Linked DNA regions of Homo sapiens. The protein of the gene in region 2 binds, or shares a complex with, the protein of the main gene of each other region. Links are inferred from orthologs where the notes say so. Each region holds a gene or a part of one and is shown on either strand. Other genes may lie near its edges.

Region 1 (7,446 bases), on a different chromosome or scaffold from region 2:
TATTCACATTCATTTGCTGTAGGTCCAAGCTTTGATGACAAGAGATCCTTCAGTTGGACAATGTAGTTAAAGGGTATAAAAATAAGTTCATTTACAGTTTCACAAGGTAACTCTACACTCACACTTAAGTTCCCCATTTCTTGTTTCCAGTTTTTATCCTACGTGTTTCAGAAAGTTTTCTGCTACTTAGCAAACTGGTAGAAGCTCAGAGGTCAAAGACCAAAGATGCCAATTAAAATAATCCTTATTAGTTGGGCTCGGTGGTTCACACCTATTATCCCAGCACTTTGGGAGGTCAAGGCAAAGGATTGCTTGAGCCCAGGCATTCGAGACTAGCCTGGGCAACATGAAACTCCATCTCTACAAAAAATACAAAAATTAGCCAGGTGTGGTGGCTCATGGCTGTAGTCCCAGCTACTCAGGATGCTGAGGTGGGAGGATGGCTTGAGCCCAGTAGGTCAAGGCTGCAGTGAGCTGTGATGGTGCCACTGACCTCCAGCAAAAACCCTGTCTCCTCAAAAAAACAAAATGCTTATTAATTTTTAAAAAGGGAGGAGATAATGATATGAAGTTAGGAGATATATTATCATGAAAGAGGCTGTAGTTATTTGGGCTCCACAATTAATCAACTGGAGCACAGTCATATTAGCTAAGCAAGCTTAAGTTTAGGCATGACATAGCAATCCAAAACACAGAGGACTGAATTTTTCAATTTGCAAATCGCTTTATATTCAAAATCTTCAAATTATTTGAGAAGAAAATGGCTTCATTCAAGCATCTGCAGAAACTTTGATCCAGTTACAAAACAGACATGTATTAAATTTGTCTTTAATAAGTGACAAGGTTGGGTTCGAATCTTTGGGATCATTTAACAATTCTTGTCTCCTCTTTAAAAGAAATGAAAAGCTATTACTCCAACCACCACAAGATTTAGTAGTGAGCTACACATCTGCCGTGGAAAATAAAGAGCAGCTGTACTTGATTCTCTGTGTGGTTTATAAACATTTGTCTGCAGAAAGATATTTCAGATGCAGTTTAATATGAAAATAAGCCCGCGTTTTCCCCTCACACTTAAGAACAGCACCCCTCAACTCTCCACATTCATTTGCCACCCCACTTTAACAAAAGCAACCACAGCAACTAAACTTGGATTGATCAAAAAAAAATGTCCATTTTGTTATTTAACATTTTTAACCCTCTGTAAAAGTGTTTTTATTGCCAAGGTATATTCCATTACTTCAGATGAGTTATTTGAAAATTATAGATGACTGAGGAAAGTGCATTATTTAACTCATTTTATGGGTAAAAATTTATTATTCTTTACATTTCAAGCCTTAAAGGAAAATAAGTCCTTGCTAGTGCAAACATGGTAATACTTGCAAAGAAATATGAAATTATGTTACTTATAGCCTGAATGTTAAAACCTTTTATTAACAAGAATCCTTTATGTATGCTATGCCAATGGGGAAATGTAAATAAAAATGGTCTTCAATGGTAAAGTGTCTAATAGGTCACTGATATCAGTGTCATGTCAAACCACTGCATTCCCTGTCATTATGGAATTAGCCCTTCAGACGACTGAGCTGAGGCAGGTTTCTTTAAGGGGATATTTGGGAAGAAAGCAAATTAATAGGAATAAATTATTTAAGCTACAGTAAAAAACAGGATTGGTGACACAGGAAAATCAAAAGCTCTGAAGAGGTTTAATTCAGTGAAGCCTTCCAATGGTCACCTGCCTAGGCCCGCCACTGGCATGTTGCCAGATAACAATATGTTGCCTCCAGGATAAGGAACCATGGGGAAGAACTCTAGAACTTACTAAAGGGAAGCCAGTCACAGACCAAATAGCCCTGCAGGTCTCAGAGCAGCTGTGCTGTCCCCAGGGCTCTGTTCAATTCCATGCGATCCTGAAGAAGATATTCAAAACTACCTGCTACTACTCGAGAAGACTAAAAGATAACCTCTGTATCACTCTTTCCTACCTTCCAGAACCAAAGAGGGGTTAAGAGCCACAACATCCCCAGAGAAATAAAAAAAGGGGGAAGGGGAGGCGAGTTTCCTTAGGGAGTTTGACCGCACACACTCTGAGATTGACATAGCTCTAAGAAATGCGTTCTCCCATTCTACCCTCGTTCCGTTCTTTCAGTGACCTTCTGTCCCTACTGCCTCAGGGAAGGCAAGAGAAAAGCCACCGCCTCACCACCACCCCCAACCCCCACCACCGGAGAAGGTGCCTTTCTCAGTTGAGAGCCGCAGAGGGAGGGAAAAAAAAGGTTGCTCCTCCCCAACCCACCCGCCCCACAACTCCTGGGTGCAGACACGATGAGGGAAAGAGGAGAGCAATGGAAGGTGACAGCCCCGCACTGGCCCAGGGGATAAGAATCCTTGCTCTGGTAGAAACAAGGGAGAATCCCCCTCCCACTCCCCTACCCAAATGAATGAAATGAATAAAATGGGGAGAGAGTTTGTACGCGCAGTTCTGGCCATCCAGGAAGCAAGATCGAGAGGCCTTTGGATCCAGGCCTGGTCCTTGCAGCTCTTTGCACCCCAACTCCTGTCCTTTCCATCCAAGCCCCACATCATTTAATATTTTAAGCTTTCCAAGATAGTGCCCCCTCCTCCACCTACCCCAATCACCGACAACCCCCCCGCCCCTCCAGCTCCGATACTGCTCGGGCCCAGACTCCAGCGTCTTCCATCCTTCCTACCACCTTCTCCACAGCCCTCACCAGCCCGGGCCCGGCCGCACCTGGAGATGCTCCTGAAAACGAATTGGCAGAATCTGGGCCATGGCGCTGTCGGGGGTTATGGTCTCCTCCTGTCACTGGGGCTGCGGGGCAGTGGCTGCCCGGGCTCTCCAAGGGAGAGGAGGAGAAGGGGAGGGGGGAGGCTGGGCTCAGCAGGATCCTCTCCGGGGACGCAGGAAACTGGCAGGCAGACGAAAGAGCTCGGGTCGGGGGCGGAGGCTCCAGGGGCCAGGAGAGCCGCAATGGCGGAACCGGGCGCAGCGCAGACTCCGGAAACGGCTGAGCCCAGCGGAAGGATCCCGGCGACAGAACTCCGCCCAGTCGCCTCACCCCCTCCGCCTTATGTACCCCTCCACGGAGCGCCGCGCGCGGCGGGCGCAGGAATTCGGGGCGCAGTGCGCCCGGTGCCTCGCTTCCTGACGCCACATGGGGGGAAACAGAGGAACCGGAGGGACTACTTTTTTAGACTCATCACTTTCGCCAGTCTTCTCTTTCTCCCCCCACTTTTTTTTTTTCATTTTGCCACATCATGCGACTCGGGGCGACCGACGTCACTTCCGTGGGCGCTTTAGGTCCCACCCACGTACTTCCAGGTGCACGTGATACTGATGGGGAAGGGTCGGCTGATTGCTGCCAGAAATGGAGAGCTCGTTTTAAGGAAATGCGGCGTCTCCTGGGAGTGAAGAGGCTTTTGGGCCACCTTGAGGCATGACGGGTGCCGCTTCGTTTCCCTGCGACCGCTGCCTGTTTCGACTGAGCCCCTCACAGGAGGACGTGGCGGGGGCAGACGGGCGCAGCCTCCCGCCCTCTCCGTGACTCAGGGAAACGGCCTCGCCGCAGAGCGCTCCCTCGGCAGCTGGCTGCAGCACTCCTCCCCCGCCGGGCTTCAGAGTGGGTGGTTTCCTACAGCCTAGGGAGGGGGCCTGAAACGGGGTTTAAAATCTTCCCTGCCCTCACACAAGCCCTTCTGACTGTTGGAGAACCTGACGCGCGGATTCTAACTAGAACTGGCACTCTCTTCGGGTGTTAGATAATTAACTCAAAGGACAGCGAAGGCCTTTTATGATGTCTTTCAAGCTGGCCTTATGACAGCTTTTCTTAACGTTTCTGCGGACATTTTGGCGGACTTGTGTCGGCCTAGCTCAGTGATCAGTTTCGTTAAAGAATTTGAGTATCCGAACATTAAAGGATTGGACCTAAATTCTAGCAGGAGGATTTTTAGCCACATCAAATAATTTACGTCTCAAAGATTTAGATAATTAGGGTAAGGATGCTTAGTAAAACCCGAAGGTTCCATCGCGCCACTGCACTCCAACCTGGGCGACAGAGCGAGACTCCGTCTCAAAAAAAAAACAAACAAAAAAAAACCTGAAGGTTCCTGGAGGAAAGAGATGAACTATTAGCCGTGTATTTCGGTGGGACCACCTCAACATAGGTTCCTGTAGGTTAGCAATGTAGAAATGTAGCGCTTCAAAGCCGGAGCATCCTGTCTTCAAAGAGCATGAAGGTATCAACGGCATTCATTGTCGATTAATAATAACCTTTCTGGTACTTTCTTGCTAAAGTATAAGCCATAATAATATTTCATAATCGCACCAATACAATAAAGGATGAAAGACGTTAGTTCTGTGCCTTTTATCTTTGTAAGAGAGGTGATTCTCCCCCCCCACCCCCCGCCCCGCCGAAAGAGAAAAGCTCAAGTCCACAATAATTATTTTTAGTGTCCTTTTCAGTTAAAGGACATAAAACCCTATTGGGTAGACGATAGTTTTGTATGCTAAGCAGTTTAGGTTACAGTGAGAAGTTTGCCAATCATTTTAGTTGCTTTTAGTGTTTTTCCCTTTACTTAACTGTCTCACATACTGAGCATGAGAGAAGAGTCTGGCAGGTAAGAGGGCAAAGATTGTTCTGCAAAGAAAAGCCTTGCCACCATGTTGTAAGAGTGAATATTTATGCTTGCAAAATTTCTTTTTGTATTGTTAAGCTAAATACACGAAGATCCTCTGTTCCGCAACATTTGAAATAACCTAATGCCAGTCTAGTAATAACTGCTTTAAACCCTTTTTGGAAGTAGACAAATTCTAAATTAAAATTCTAAGGGAGTAATTGTTTTATTACAGTAATTCAATAGCTTGATCAAGTCACCTTTTCAATCTCAGAATCCGGAGATAAAAGAGCCGTATCATGAATGGGCCACCAAAATTTAATTAGTGTCTGGCATTTTCATACAGACCCTGTAACTTTAAGTACATTTAGAATCCCAAAAGCAGTTGATTTTAGCTATTTGGAGTGGAATATCTAACCAAAAAGTGCGCTGAGGTTGTTAGTGACTGCTACGTCATCACACATAGAAATTACACTGTTTTGAGAAATAATTTAGGAAGAGGAAAAATAGATCGTGATATCCTGGGTCATTTTGAAATGATCTTCAAATTAATCCAAAAATTTTCAAGAGAAAAAAAAAGTCAAGATGATAAACATTAAAAAAAAACCCTATGCCTTTTTAAAGATGAATAATTTGAGTAGGGTAATAAGAGTTTTTTTTTTTTTTTAATGGGAGTCTGCTGTTCTTGGTAACAGTATAAAGGCAGTTTCACTGGTTTCACTGGTTTAGTTACCTAAGCAATACCTGAATGGCACTGTTTTCAGACATTACCTCAAGTTAGAAGGGAGAACAGATAACCTAATAGACCAGGAAGCAAATCCTACTACCCAGAATGGCTTTTTCTACGATACAGTATGACATAGTCTTTTAATAAGACAATGCTATGAATGATCACTCTAGCTTTTGGTTTCAGAAAATGTTTTAGCAAGGTAGCCATGTTAATCAATGGTGAAGTGAAAGCTATTTTAGTTGGAATGCTCATCAACAGTAGACTATCATGAGTCACAGCAAGTGCCATTAGCAAAAACTACATTGCTTGGTCTGTTATTTTGAGGACTGCTAGTTTCTGAAAACCTATACAAGAAACCTGTGTTGTGTCACTAATTTTAATGTTATGCCAACAATTAGGATGGAGATATATACATATATATATATATATATATATATATATATATAAACACTCAATAGAATGACACCTCAAAACACAAACAAAAAACAAAAAAAAAAACAACCCCTTTCACTGTAGGATTTCTCCATTAGCTGTTCATCTTCAAGCAGCCCTAGCACTAATGCCCCTGCCTTTTAAAAACTTGACCTTTTAAAAACAGCCTGAATTCACTGCACTGCAAAAGTCACAAAGAAAAGGCATATCTCACATACTCAGAAATTAATTTTAAAGCAGAACTTTAATCCACTGTACCAAATGTTTACAATTCAGATTCCAATAAAGCCATAAAGGACATACTTTAGTATTATCCAAGTAAGATACTTGGTTTTGCCATTTAAACAGTAGCTTTGAAGCATCTCAACCCCCTGGGGCCACTGATATGAATCCCAGCAGGATTAGACTGGCTAGGTCTTTATTTTTTCATGCAAGATAAGGAGCAGCCTATCAAATGCCAGTAAACAAATGTACAAGTCACTGACTATCGGCAAGGCTCCCCGCTCCAAAATGAAGAAAAGAAAGCAGCATTTACAAAGCAAGAACAATTTTTTTTTTTTGAGACGGAGTCTTGCTCTTGTCGCCCAGGCCAGACTGCAATGGTGTGATCTCGGCCCACCACAACCTCCGCCTCCTGGGTTCAGGCAATTCTCCTGCCTCAGCCTCCCGAGGAGCTGGGATTACAGGCACCAGCCACCATGCCTGGCTTATTTTTGTATTTTTAGTAGAGACAGGGGTTTCACCATGTTGGGTAGGCTGGTCTTGAACTCCTGACCTCAGGTGATCTGCCTGCCTCAGCCTCCTCAAGTGCTGGGATTACAGGCATGAGCCACCACACCCAGCCCCACAAGAACAAAATTTTAATGGCATTTTAATTTTACTATGAAACGTACTTTACTCTTGACATCCACTGCGCAGGCTTGTTTTAAACCTTTAAATATTTAGACAAGTTTTATAACGTACGATGGATAGCAATAAGATCTATAGTGAATCTTTACTTTGTATCAGCATTGGGCATGTTCCAAGTGAAAAGCCAAGACTAGCTTTGTGGGGATCCAATGTAGAATGAAGTCACATTATATAGGGCCCACCCATGTTTTTGAAGGGTTAAATAAGACCCTGGCAGAGGAATGAAGTGGTTCATGACATTACCTTAAAAAGCCATTTCACAAAAGTTGGTTTAGGCAGGACATGGTGGCTCAGCCTGTAATCCCAGCACTTTGGGAGGCCGAGGCGGGCGGATTACCTGAGGTCAGGAGTTTGAGACCAGCCTGGCCAACATGGTGAAATCCCACCTCTACTAAATATACAAAAATTAGCCAGGCACCGTGGCAGGTGCCTGTCATCCCAGCTACTTGGGAGGCTGAGGCAGGAGAATCGCTTGAACTTGGGAGGTGGAGGTTGCAGTGAGCCGAGATCACACCATTGCACTCCAGCCTGGGTGACAGAGCGAGACTCGGTCTCAAAAATAAAATAAGTTTCTGGATGCCTTCAATTTCCCTTTTGTTTTTTGAACCCCCCTGCCTATTTCCCTTTCAATTCTAGACAAATTAAAGGAAACATTCCTATTATAAGCATACTTTTATATAGCACTTTTAAGAAAGGTGTTTATTAATAGGGGATTTCATATCAGAGGATCAGATAAATATGTC
Region 2 (5,080 bases):
CAGTACATTATCTATTAGAACATCGACTCTTCCTCACTGATATCCTTACTCCTCCCATATGTTCTGTTAGACCAGGTGGCACATAAGTCTTTGAAAACTGAAGTGACTTCAGGAAGACCCAGCAGGGCAGGAGATAAGAAGTGAACAAGAACCAGGGCTGGGGCTGGGGTGAGGACTCCCACTGATGTGGTCAGTGGTGCCAAAGATAGAAGATAGGATGGCTTCACCCCAGGAGCAAACCATGGGTCACAAAATCCTGTGGTATCTGAGAGGGATGAGAGGTATGCCAGCTTCCCAAGGCCATAAGGCTGAAAAGTGGCAGAAGAGGGACAGGAGAAAAGTTTTTGGCAGTCTCCAGAAGTTGGTACAAGGACCAGGCTGGAGCTGGGGCCACAGACAAGGGAAGAGAGCACCTCACCCAGTCATGAGCCCCATCTGCCAGTCCAGGGCAGCAGGGAGGCATTTCTTGGTCTTTGACCTGCCATGGGCTTATGAGACAGAAATGAAAGCACAGCCAGCATCCTCTGCCACAAAAGACCTTTAATGGCCTCCTATTTATTGTTCTTTTGTTCATTTGTTAGAGTTGAATGAACTATAATAACTTGTCTGACATAATAAGAATGCCACAGGTATAACAGATAAACCTGGCAGGTGGTCCAGGAATGAGAGTGTCACAAAATAATCACTCAACACAAGGGCCACAGACCTGGAGATTCTTCCCAGCCATCCCTCACTCCTGCCCCAGGACACAACCCATGCAGGCCCCCATTCCATAGGAAGAGGCAGGTCCCACAGTGTCTGTGGCTAGACCTTAACACTGAGCAGAGATGCCCGGGAAGATGGCACTTCCTATGCTCGTTCCCAAGTGCTCTGCTCATCTGCCATGCAGGTCAGGACCATACCCCGAGTTTGTGAGGCACCCACCTCTCATACTCACCACCTCATATGACCACCTATCATACCCACCTCTCCTATGACCCTTGCAATTGTCCCAGTGAGGTGGGAAGAGCCTGGACTAGCCCCATTTTGCACACAGGGAAACTAAGGACACACTCGGACCGAATGTAATACACCCGTGTCATGCGCTTGCTGTGCCCTGAGCTTCACATTTTCACCTAGAATTCCCTGGGGGGTGGGAGTGGGGGACAGGGCAGGCAGGGTTTTGTGCCAAGGGCTGGTCCAGTTCTCACTAAAGTGTCCAGGATTCCTGGGGGAATCCTGCCCTCAAAGGAGGGACTTTTGTCATAAAATCCTCCCTGAGTCTGTCTTTTATGTGAGCCAAGATTTCCATCCATCCGGCGCTGTGTAAAGATGAATTTAACCCTAGCCTCTCTCCTATCACACTGCTTCTCCTGCTGTGTCCCTTGGGCCTAGGCCAGGAAAGTGGGGTGCCAGATAGGGGTGCAGACACAAGTCCTCAGTGGGGGATTGAGCCTGTTTCCTTGCTCCAGAGCTCCCCATGCTTCATGGGCCAATATCAGGGTCACGACCCATCCCCACTGAGCACCAGGTCCCTGTCCAAATCAAACCTTGGCCAGAGCTTCAGGGTGGGTTGGCTAGAAAAACCATCAACTATGTACGTGTGTGTGTGTGTGTGTGTGTGTGTGTGTGTGTGTGTGTATAAATGCTTGTGCCTGGGTCTGTGACCCAAGTTCCAACACAAAGACACTTTGTACTGGAACGCTGGAGCCATTCCAACATGAACAGCAAGAATAGAACCTGTGCTGGCTGGTCTAAGATCAAACCTCGAGATGGTGGTTTGAAGTTCTTCTTCAAAGAAAGCTTGAAAATGAAATCTCAGTAGGCAAGACAGATAAAAGCAGAGTTATTCTGGTGGCGGCGGAAATGGGAGGAGGGCTGGAAACCTATCCTTTGCCTCCACTCCCATCTTCCCACTTTAGCATCCCCTGACAAAGCTCTGTGGAATATCAGGGGTTCCGCAGCACCTGGTTTGAAAACCACTGTGTCAGTGTCTACAAACCATAGGCCCCACGGACCTGTGCTTTGACTTCCCTTTTGGGGTGACGAGTTGGAGTGTGATGGGGGGAGGATGTTTCCCCTTCAACAGGGCGTGTCTTTGAAGCCGCTGTGCAGTGACCCTGTGGGGAAGTGGTAGAGGTGGGGTCCTGCCACTTTCGTCCAGGAGGAATGGCAGAAGAGATGGAGCTGCCTGGGCCAGGAGGAAACACCAAGCCCAGTGCAGGCCGTATAGATGAGGGTTCAGGAGTGTTTTGGTCCTTTTGAGTTTAAAAAATTATAGATATCAGAACAGGCATAGGCCTATGTCCATGAGACCCTATAAGAGTGTAAGACTGGGACCTAACCCCTTCCTCCTGGATGGGTGGAGAGCAACCAGTCCCCAGTGACAGGCAGGAGAGAAGCTGCCGCTCTGGGATGCTGACGCCACTGCATCCGCTGTGGCTCGGCTCTCAGGACAAAAGGCTTGGGTTTTTCCTGGGCCCGAAGCCCTCCCAATGTCACTGAGAAGCTGTGGTGGCTCCAGTTGCTCCTGGAAGAGGCCTTACACTTTGAAGGGAAGGAACAGACAATTTCTATTTCTCCTTGCCCTTAGATTTCTGCGGATGGGTGGTTTCAGCTCCCTGAGCCTGGGGGCTGGTGGCTCTCTTTAACCTGGGTCAGAGCCAAGGCCCCTTGGCCTCTGTGGGGTCTGAGAGATGGGAGATGTGACACCAGGCCTAGGAGGGTCCAAGATGTCCCCCTCCACCAATCACTGACAATATCCAGGTCTTCCCTCTGTGTCCTGGTTGCTGGGACCACTATTTTTGGGCATGATATTCCTGAATTGTATCTAAATTTCCCTCTCAGCTGGGTCATCAAAGCCAAATTGGCTGTATCTCATTCTGGTTGACATCTGCCTAAGTGAGAAGCAGGGCAAGCGATGAAGACTGGTGGGGAGGGCTCCTCCTGCAGCAAACTTTCTGTGTGACCTTGGGCCATCCCTGCAGTGGCAGGGCCACACACATCCAGCCATTTTCAACTTACAGAGCCCTGACCGCTGACTTTCATCTCATCTGGGCCTCATAACAATTCCTGCGTCAGGCAGGGAAGGGATTACAATCCCATTTTACAGTTAGGGAAATTGAGCCCCAGAGGTTGAGTAGCTTGCCCAAGCCCCCCAGGTGGTTGGTGACAGGCAGGACTGAGAGGCGGCATTGGGGACTTCCAGGACAGAGTTCCTTTCACTGCACCATGTAGGAACCAGCTTGTCAGGAACTCTCCCACAGAACCAACAGCCAGGTGAACCCACTCTAGCAGGTCTGAGCTTTGAGGCTGAGGAGAGGTGCAGCCAAATAACTCAGTCCTTATCTTCATGGGGACTGAACTCTTCCCCTGGGTGGAATGCTGAGGAGGTCCCGCTGGCTCTCTGCTCGGTGGGTTTTCACCGGGGCATGCTTTTCCTTCCTGCCCGGACCGGTGTCCACACGCCACCCACAGGGCACACTGCAAAGTCCCAGTGACGGATGGCTTGGCCAGTGCAGGCCCCAAACACTTGGCAGAGAAACCGCCAGTACTGTGGGATGGTGCCTGGGGCCTAGTGAGGCTCCCCCACCCCTAGTTTCACTTCAAGGTATCACCTGGGCAGGCTGACTCCAGAAAGGAAAGGGGCCCTGCAGAGAAGCACTGGCTCGGCCATGTTTGGGGGCTGGGAGGTGGTGCCTGGAGTTGACCAGAAGCTTGGAAACATGACCTGCGGCTTCCTCTCCAGGAAGAGGCTGAAGGAAACACTTTGGCCTGTGTGTCCCTCGAGGCTGCAGCGTATGGCCGTGCAGCAGGGCACCTCTGGCCAAGGGGCAAGGGGTGCTAAAATCCAACCTGTGTGTCACTCCCAAAGCTGTGCGTTCTAGTGTAGGTCTGAATCCACCTGGAAAGGGCACCGTCTTCTAATTCACATCAAGGCACCATAGGGACCAGCAGCCACCAGGAGCCCTGAAGGCAACTGCCCTCTATTACTTATCCCTACAACGTTTCCCTGACCATGGGCTTCCTGAGGACAGGGGCTGGGACTGACCCATCTCTGTGGCTCCAGTACTTGGCATAGAGCTGAGTCATCAGCAAAGGATGGTAGGCTGAATTCAACTAAATTTGGCCATTGCCTTGTGCAGTCCTGGCTCCAGGAGAAAAAAAAAAAAAAAAGATAGTGCTCTGATCCTTCCCTGCAGCTGGAGAAATTTGCTAAATAACACTGGGCTAAACCCAAAAGGGTGAGCGTGATGTTGAGGTGCAGGAGGCTCGGGAAACCAGCCTGACAAACGTTTTCCATGCATGAGTTAGGGATAGGGGAAGAAGTCTGCAGGAAAGAGGTCATCCCAAACACTAAAGGATCTTGTGTCAGCCCCAAAGGTTTCAGAAGACACTGGAGGGCATATGTTTGCCATGCATTGCTCCAGCATTTCATCAGCTCTGCGCCTGCCCAGATGAGGTGCAGCCTGCCCAGCAAGCTCTAGGAGGGGCTGGATGCCTGGGGGACCTGCAACTAGGCCCTCAAGACTGGACAGGGTAGTACGACAGCCCCCAGCTGACTTGGTTCTGGTCTGGGGAGGGGTCCCTTGGGTTGAGTGGTCATGAGACTCAGAAGTCGCGCTGCCAGGCTTGTGAAACAGGTGATTTCACCACAGGAAATAAGTCACACTGCCTGCCCCAGGAGGTGCTGGACTGGAAAGGATTGAGATGCCACTTGTATAAGATTTTTTGTCTCCCTTTTCAGACAAGTATGGGAGAGAGATGGAAGGGAGCAGAAACTGAGGAGAGAGCCCTTGTCCTGCTAATCAATATATTTGCCTGGGTAAACCTCAGGGTGTCTGTGCCCACAGGGGGCTGTGAGGTACTGCAAGCCCTATCATAAGCCCCTCAGCCAAGCCTCAGCAAAGATATGCTCTGTCCCTCCTTGGGCAACTCATGCTACCTATGGCCACAGCCTGACATCAATCCCTTCCCAGTCTTGGGCACAGGGTGGGGTTGAGGGCAGTTGGTGCTCCATAGGGCCCTGCCACCTCTGAGGTCCAATAAATCCCCTCTGGAGGCAGAGAGACCAGTCAGCAGCTCTGGCTCTACCCACCAG
Region 3 (7,040 bases), on a different chromosome or scaffold from region 2:
GGTCTGGCTGAAGCTGATTTCCAAGCTACTAGAATGTAAGTGATCTTCACTTATCTGGGAAATTGTCCCTCTGGACTGAACTAAAGCTCACTCTGATAGTTTCTTTCCATCACTGAAAGTACAAATATAGTCTGGAAATAACTTTACTGAGAATTTTATTTTCTTCTGTTGGCCATTGACATCACATTCATTCATTCACTCACTTAGCAAATATTTATTAAGTGCATACTGTGTGCCAGGCAGTGTTCCAGGCTCTGAGGATACAGCAGTGAACAAAGTCATGGCCCTCTGGGATCACTTATTCTGAAGGATGGGGGTAGGAATATATATAATATGTATAGATAATATAATATATAATATGTATAGATAGTGTAATATGTAATATGTGAGATGGTGATAAGTACTAACAAGAAAGTAAAGTAGAGAAGAAATCTAAGAAATGCTGGGCATTTGGGGGTGAGGGGTTGTATTTTCTTTTTAAAGGATGGCCAGGGAAGACCTCACTGAGAAGGTGGCATTCATATAAAGACCCAAAGGAAGTCAGGAATAGGAGGAAGAGAGAAGTACAGCCTATTTATCTTCTTTCTTTAATACAGTAAGTTAGCTACTTGTGTTGCCCAAGCTACCAAAATTGGATTAATTTCTAAAGAACCCTCAACAGATAATTAAATATCAACCATTTTATGAGGCATGTAAGTGTAGGTGGCAGGGGCTAGGAGAGGGGGGAGACAGGAAAATATAGTAGTGGTGTCCTGCTATTTAAAAAACAAACCCTTTTCAGAGAGTCCCTTATTCTCATTATCCTTAAGAGAGGAGGTTGGATTGTTTTCCCTACCAGCCTGCCTCCTGCTGTATCTTACAATGAAATCTTCAGCCACAACTGCGTTTGCTGTCTCTTCCTATGAAATAACTCTCAGAATGCTTAATTTGACTTCCTATAGGTTGAGTAGAAATGGGCTGAGAGGCAGGGAGCCTTAACATAATATGGGGAGACAAAGAGGACTATAAAACAAGAAGGTAAATGGTGTGAGCTCAAGTGTCTTGGGTATTGCTAGGTTCTTTCCAGTTTGAACATCCCTTATTACTGGTTTCCTGAAGTCTTCTTATGTCCCTGCTCTGCCTGTAGTTTGCTGAGAATGAGGCTTCTGCATTGTTGGATCCCAATTTTACCTAAGCATGGAGCTTTGACTTTTCTAACTAATTCTTTAATTTTTTGATACTTGGCCATTAGACTCTGACATATTACCTTATAGAATGAATTCAGCAAATAAATTATAATTCATGATATTAATTTTCATTCTCCACCCTCAGCATCTGTGAGCGGGTAACTCCCCGGCTATCCCATGCCAACTCAGCAGTGGTGCTTTCAGCGGTAAAAGTCCTAATGAAGTTTCTAGAATTGTTACCTAAGGATTCTGACTACTACAATATGCTGCTGAAGAAGTTAGCCCCTCCACTTGTCACTTTGCTGTCTGGGGAGCCAGAAGTGCAGTATGTCGCCCTGAGGAACATCAACTTAATTGTCCAGAAAAGGTTGGGAAATAGCGAAGTGTTGATTAAAGTGTTTGTAATTTTGCATTAAGCTTAATAATGTCAATGTTAATTAGGCTAGTGTTAATCTCTTTTTAATATATGGAAATGAAAATGTTATATGGCAGAAAAACTTGCTTGCCTAGCACCAGGAGGCTAACAGTTGATATTACAGTGTTTCTATAATAAATGCCATGCGTTGCTCCACAATCCAGTTTGTTTTCTGAAGGGTCTCTTTCTGATATACTGTCTAGTGCCTGGTTGATATGGTTCAGGCTGTAGTTTAGAGCCAGATTGTTGTTCTAGCAGTTCTTCATGGCAACATGTGCCCTGATGCTTAAAAAGGATAAAAATAATCTGCCAAGTGGAACTGATAAGAATAGAGGCGTATAGAGGAAGTTTATGCTTTTTTTTTTTTTTTTTTTTTTTTGCCTGAGTGGAGCGAGAGGAGAGCAGAGAGGCACAGATTAGGTATTAATACAGTCTCAGAAGGGTATATCAGTATATGCCTTCACCTTCCTTTCTTCTGTTTCTGTGTACCCTAGGCCTGAAATCTTGAAGCAGGAAATCAAAGTCTTCTTTGTGAAGTACAATGATCCCATCTATGTTAAACTAGAGAAGTTGGACATCATGATTCGTTTGGCATCTCAAGCCAACATTGCTCAGGTCAGACTTTATGCAGACTCAAGTTGATGATGATTTAGCTCTTAAGGTCTGGCCTTTAAAGAAGCTAGGCTGTGAGATTGCTATTTGAGAATCCTTAATGATTAACCACTTCCTGGGTTTAACAGGTTCTGGCAGAACTGAAAGAATATGCTACAGAGGTGGATGTTGACTTTGTTCGAAAAGCTGTGCGGGCCATTGGACGGTGTGCCATCAAGGTGGAGGCAAGTGTCTGATGGTAGTTAGGATCATGTATTGGGGATTCTGAGAGTTCTCTTCACTTTTTTCTTTAAAATAATTTTTAAGTTTATCAAAATAATAAAGCACACAGTTTCAATGTTAAAGAATTTTTAATGGAAAGCAGCTGTCTCTGGTTCCTCCCTTCCCTACCTAGACTTTCTTCTCAGAGGGAATATTTTTAACTCTGATTTTGCTTTTAGTTATTCTTTTGATTAAAATAGGTCCTCCATATCCATGAGTTCCACATCCGTGGATTCAGCTAACTGCGGATCAAAAATATTCAGGGGAAAAGAAAAAGGATGGTTTTGTCTGTACTGAACATGTACAGACCTTTTTTTGTCTATATTCCTTAAAAATATAACAATTATTTACATAGTATTTACATTGCATTAGGTATTATAAATAATCTAGAGATGGTTTAAAGTATACAAGAGAATGTGTATAAATGCAAATACTATACCATTTTATGTAAGGCACTTAAGCATCCATGGATTTTGGTATCCACAGGGGCCCAGGAACCAATCTCCCATGGATTTGGAGACATGACTGGGCTGCCATATCTCTAAATAATATTCTTGGCTGGGTGCAGTGGCTCACACCTGTAATCCCAGCACTTTGGGAGGCCAAGGTGAGAGGACTGCTTGAGCCCAGCAGTTTGAGACCACCCTAGGCAACATAGTAAGGCTCTGTTTCTACAAAAACTTTTTTAAGTTAGCTGGGTGTGGTGGCACACACCTGTAGTCCCAGCTACTTGGAAGGCTGAGGCAGGAAGATTGCTTGAGTCTGGGAGGCTGAGACTGTAGTAAGCTGTTATTGTGCCACTGCACTCCAACCTGAAACCTTTTCACTCTGGGTGACAGAGCAAGACGCTGTCTCAAAAAAAGAACAACAATAATATTCTTATGCTATTATTTATTAATTTACCTATCATAGACTTTTTCTGTTAACTATCTGCTATAAGAAGTTTACTTCATACACCCACCATTCCCACTTCCGTCTCCTGTTTTCCAGTGTAGTTACATAATGAAGGTTTTTGTTCCTATATCCATTATCATGGTAGATTGAAATAATATGCCTTTGTTTCTTATTCTATCAACTGTTGGCTTGCAAAATTTATGCATATTACGACTGTGTAAATATTTAGGGCCAATGTAATGCAAATGATTACATTTTCTTTCTTATAGCATCTTTTTTTTTTCTGGAGGTTTTTTGTTTTGTTTTGATTTTTGAGACAGAGTCTCTGTTGCCCAGGCTGGAGTGCAGTGGTATGATCTCGGCTCACTGCAACCTCTGCCTCCCGGGCTCAAGCGACTCTTATGCCTCAGCCTCCTGAGTAGCTGGGATTACAGGCATACGCTACCACACCTAGCTAATTTTTGTATTTTTAGTAGAGACGAGGTTCGCCATGTTGGCTGGGCTGGTCTTGAACTCCTAGCCTCAAGTGATCCGCCTGCCTCAGCCTCCCAAAGTGTTGAGATTATAGGTGTGAGTTACCACACCTGGCCCTGGAGTTTCTTTAATTGCCTCTTTTTTTCTTGCATGTGTGTCTTTATCATGCCCCTATATTATTCCTGTTCCTTAAGCATAATATCAAATCTGTAAACTTTCTTTTGTCTTAGACCCTTCTCTTTTGCAGTCCTCTGTCTTCTTGTTTTTTCTACTCTGACTGATTGCTTTTCTGGCTTCTGCACATCATTCCATACAGCCTCCCTATTTCTTGTTATTGGTATATTTTTCCTTGCATTGCTCTTTTTGTGGTTGCAATAGCTTCTTGAATCTCTGAGGATATGAATGATTCGTTTTTTTGTTTCTGCACTTTGAATTTAATTATCGGATATTTTTTGGTGATGATTGCATATCTATGCATATAATTTTTTAATTGAGATGTATACCATGCATACAGTAAAGTGCAGCTCGTTTCTGTTTAAGAAAGAGGTAACAGAAAAGTTGATTAGGACTTCTGTATACATAGGCAAGGCTGTCGACTATCAGGTTTCTGCTTTAGGGAAGGGGGTTTATCTTTACATGGAAGACCTCTTGAAGAGCCTATCTGGTCTTAGAGGGCAGATTGGTTTCTAGCTTGGCTGCAGCCTTCCGGTAAGTATTATGGGCTGTAATTTACATTGCCCTGCTTCATCAGTCAGCAGTCCTCCATTTGTTTGTCCTCATTCAGAAATTTGTTGAAATTAACAGTGGCTTCTGTTCACTGTTTTTATGGGTTCAGAGCCCCATGTTTGTTCTTGCTACTTGATTATATGCAGTTCTGCCTAGAGTCAGAGGATTGGACCATATGATTTCTCAGGAATACGAAAACAATTTGTACAGTATGACCAGTACTTTACCGGAACAAAAGGAGGCAGATGTGTGTCAGAGAATCTTCTATGAAATACCTGTTCCTAATTGGCCTTCCTTGTTTTTTTTCAGTTTAGTGCTGCTTCATGTAGTTTCTGTTGATAAATAATTTAATAGAAAGGCTGTTAACAGCAAGAAGTTAGCTAGTCCTGGGTTCTATTCCTGGTTCTGCTAGCTCACTTGATTCAGATATTTAATGTTTCTCTTCATTGGAGAAATGTTAAAGTCTTTTTGTTGGATCTTGATATGTTAACATTGTTTTTATTACCACTGTCACCACACGTCACAACTTGTTTTTCTTTTCTTTTTACGTTAACATATCTTACTAGCCGTCTACTTAGTATTAATGTAGATAATTTTCAGAGAGATTTTGGTAGCATAAGAGTAAGGTGGTTTTGTTCTCTTCACTAGTGTACATAGCCATCTTTTCCACAAGACTGCCATTGTCTTATGACCTACCTCTCTGACAAAGCTGTAAACAGTAATACAAAAATTATATCTTATTCTGAAGTTCAGAGACTTTCTAGCCCTGGAATTACTAGAAAGTGTTCTCAAAGCATCTAGATTCCTCAAGGCTGTTAGTCATCTATTGTGACTAATGGAAAGGTTCTCCATAATCTTCTGGAAAAGACTTCTGATGGCTTTCACTTCTTCCTTTGACTAAGCGTGCTTTGATGGGAGTATGACAGGATGTGAGGAATGAACTTTCCCAGGAAACTTAAGGTCACCCTTCAGGAATCCTGTCTTATCTAGTGCTGTCATTTCAGATTACCCAGATTTACCTTAGAACTTTTCCTGTAACTGTTTCAGCCATGAAGGTTTTCAGTTTGACAGAGTTGCCAAGCCAAACAGTTAATTGGACCAGGAGAGGCAATGATTGCCTGTTTGCACTAACTCATCCATGGGACAGGAATCAGCAGCATAAGAATTGTAATGAACTTTCTGTATAGCTTTGGGAAGCAACAAGCTGTTGAGCAAATAAATAGCACTGAAAAAGCAATCCTATGGTGCTATTTTTTTGTTCAATAACTTTTGCCTATTTCTTTCAGGAGTAAACAAACTCCTGGTCCTTTTCAGTTTTAAAAAGGAGAGAGGTTGAGGCACTAGGTTAAGACCAGGAGTTCTTCACTTCCTGGTCTTCTGGTTATTTTCTGTTTACTATTTCTGATTTTTATATATTAGAATAAAATATTGGTTTGTGTGTCATTTCTTAAAGACAAAAAACATATTTTTCCTATTAGGAAAACCATATTTGTTTACTATATATAATTATAGAACAAGTTAAACAAAAAATGGGGTACCCCGCTTTCCCCATCTTCTGTTTCACTCTCTCAGATATGCAGTGGACATAATCTGGTAGACATCATTTTATATCATTGTTTATATAGTGTTCTATACAAAGATGTATTTTTTTATAAAAATGAAATCATTCCACAAATGCTATTTATTTACTTTGTTTTATCCTCTACTTTTTTTTTTCTTACTAGTAATATCATGGACATTGATCCACATTATAAAGAAAAATTTATGTCATCTTTAGTTTCTGGTTTATAGACATAACGTGATTACTTGATAACTTACTGAATTTGTAACTTTATCCCTTATTATAGGACCTTAAAGTTGTTTCTACTCTTTTTCCAAATGGTGGTATAAGGAGTATCCTTGCAACTAAATCTTTGAACTCTAGTTGAAGTGAACATTTTTTCATAACAGTTATGCTTATTAGCCATTTGGGAATTGCTCACTCATGTCCTCTGCACCTTTTTCCAATATGTTATCTTTTCCACATTGTTGTTTTAAAGTCTTTTGTAATTGAGATGTTAACCCTTCTTTTAGTTAGCATTTATTTTCCTAGTTTGTTGTCCTTTAGATTTCTTCTGCTTTCTTGATGCACAGAAGTTTAGATTTTTGTATCAGCTTTTCTCAGTCAGTGTTTTTCCTCAGTGGCACACTTAGAAAATTGTGCTTCACCTAAAGTTATATAAAATTCACTATTTTTTTTTTTTTTACTTCTATGGCAATGATTTTGTTTTATTTGTTTTTTGGGGGGTGGTGGGGAAATGGAGTCTTGACTTGTCGCCCAGGCTGGAGTGCAAATGGCGCAATCTCAGCTCACTGCAACCTCTGCCTCCTGGGTTCAAGTGATTCTCCTGCCTCAGCCTCCAGAGTAGCTGGGATTACAGACATGCACCACCATGCCCGGCTAATTTTTGTATTTTTAGTAGAAACAGGGTTTCACCATGTTGGCTATGCTG

The links. Proteins that work in one complex are often made in the same cells at the same time.
Region 1: the proteins of ARRB1 (region 2) and CLTC are in contact, whole or in part, in a crystal structure (PDB 3GC3), measured with the Bos taurus proteins. The link is inferred for Homo sapiens from one-to-one orthologs. Residues at the interface, in NP_776668.1 of Bos taurus: His30, Ile31, Asp32, Leu33, Val34, Glu35, Pro36, Pro96, Thr98, Arg99, Tyr173, Pro175, Lys355, Thr374, Asn375, Leu376, Ile377, Glu378, Leu379, Asp380; in NP_776448.1 of Bos taurus: His12, Leu13, Gln14, Gln16, Asn17, Leu18, Gly19, Val50, Asn56, Asp57, Pro58, Ser59, Asn60, Ile62, Arg63, Arg64, Pro65, Ile66, Ser67, Ala68, Lys78, Ile80, Leu82, Lys83, Ala84, Thr87, Gln89, Phe91, Asn92, Ile93.
Region 3: the proteins of ARRB1 (region 2) and AP2B1 are in contact, whole or in part, in a crystal structure (PDB 2IV8), measured with the Homo sapiens proteins. Residues at the interface, in NP_004032.2 of Homo sapiens: Asp384, Asp385, Val387, Phe388, Glu389, Phe391, Ala392, Arg393, Arg395, Leu396; in NP_001273.1 of Homo sapiens: Arg834, Gln835, Phe837, Leu838, Trp841, Lys842, Asn846, Glu849, Ile876, Ala877, Arg879, Val881, Glu882, Gln884, Tyr888, Glu902, Arg904.

The regions. Positions count from the first base shown.
Region 1 is NC_000017.11:59,615,477-59,622,922, reverse strand, and holds the start of CLTC (clathrin heavy chain 1), read right to left. Parts: upstream 3,029-7,446; 5' UTR 2,792-3,028; coding exon 2,750-2,791; intron 1-2,749. UniProt on the Homo sapiens protein: Clathrin is the major protein of the polyhedral coat of coated pits and vesicles. Two different adapter protein complexes link the clathrin lattice either to the plasma membrane or to the trans-Golgi network.
Region 2 is NC_000011.10:75,259,602-75,264,681, forward strand, and holds the end of ARRB1 (beta-arrestin-1), read right to left. Parts: 3' UTR 521-5,080; downstream 1-520. UniProt on the Homo sapiens protein: Functions in regulating agonist-mediated G-protein coupled receptor (GPCR) signaling by mediating both receptor desensitization and resensitization processes.
Region 3 is NC_000017.11:35,625,310-35,632,349, forward strand, and holds part of AP2B1 (AP-2 complex subunit beta), read left to right. Parts: intron 1-1,311; coding exon 1,312-1,533; intron 1,534-2,075; coding exon 2,076-2,196; intron 2,197-2,321; coding exon 2,322-2,417; intron 2,418-7,040. UniProt on the Homo sapiens protein: Component of the adaptor protein complex 2 (AP-2). Adaptor protein complexes function in protein transport via transport vesicles in different membrane traffic pathways.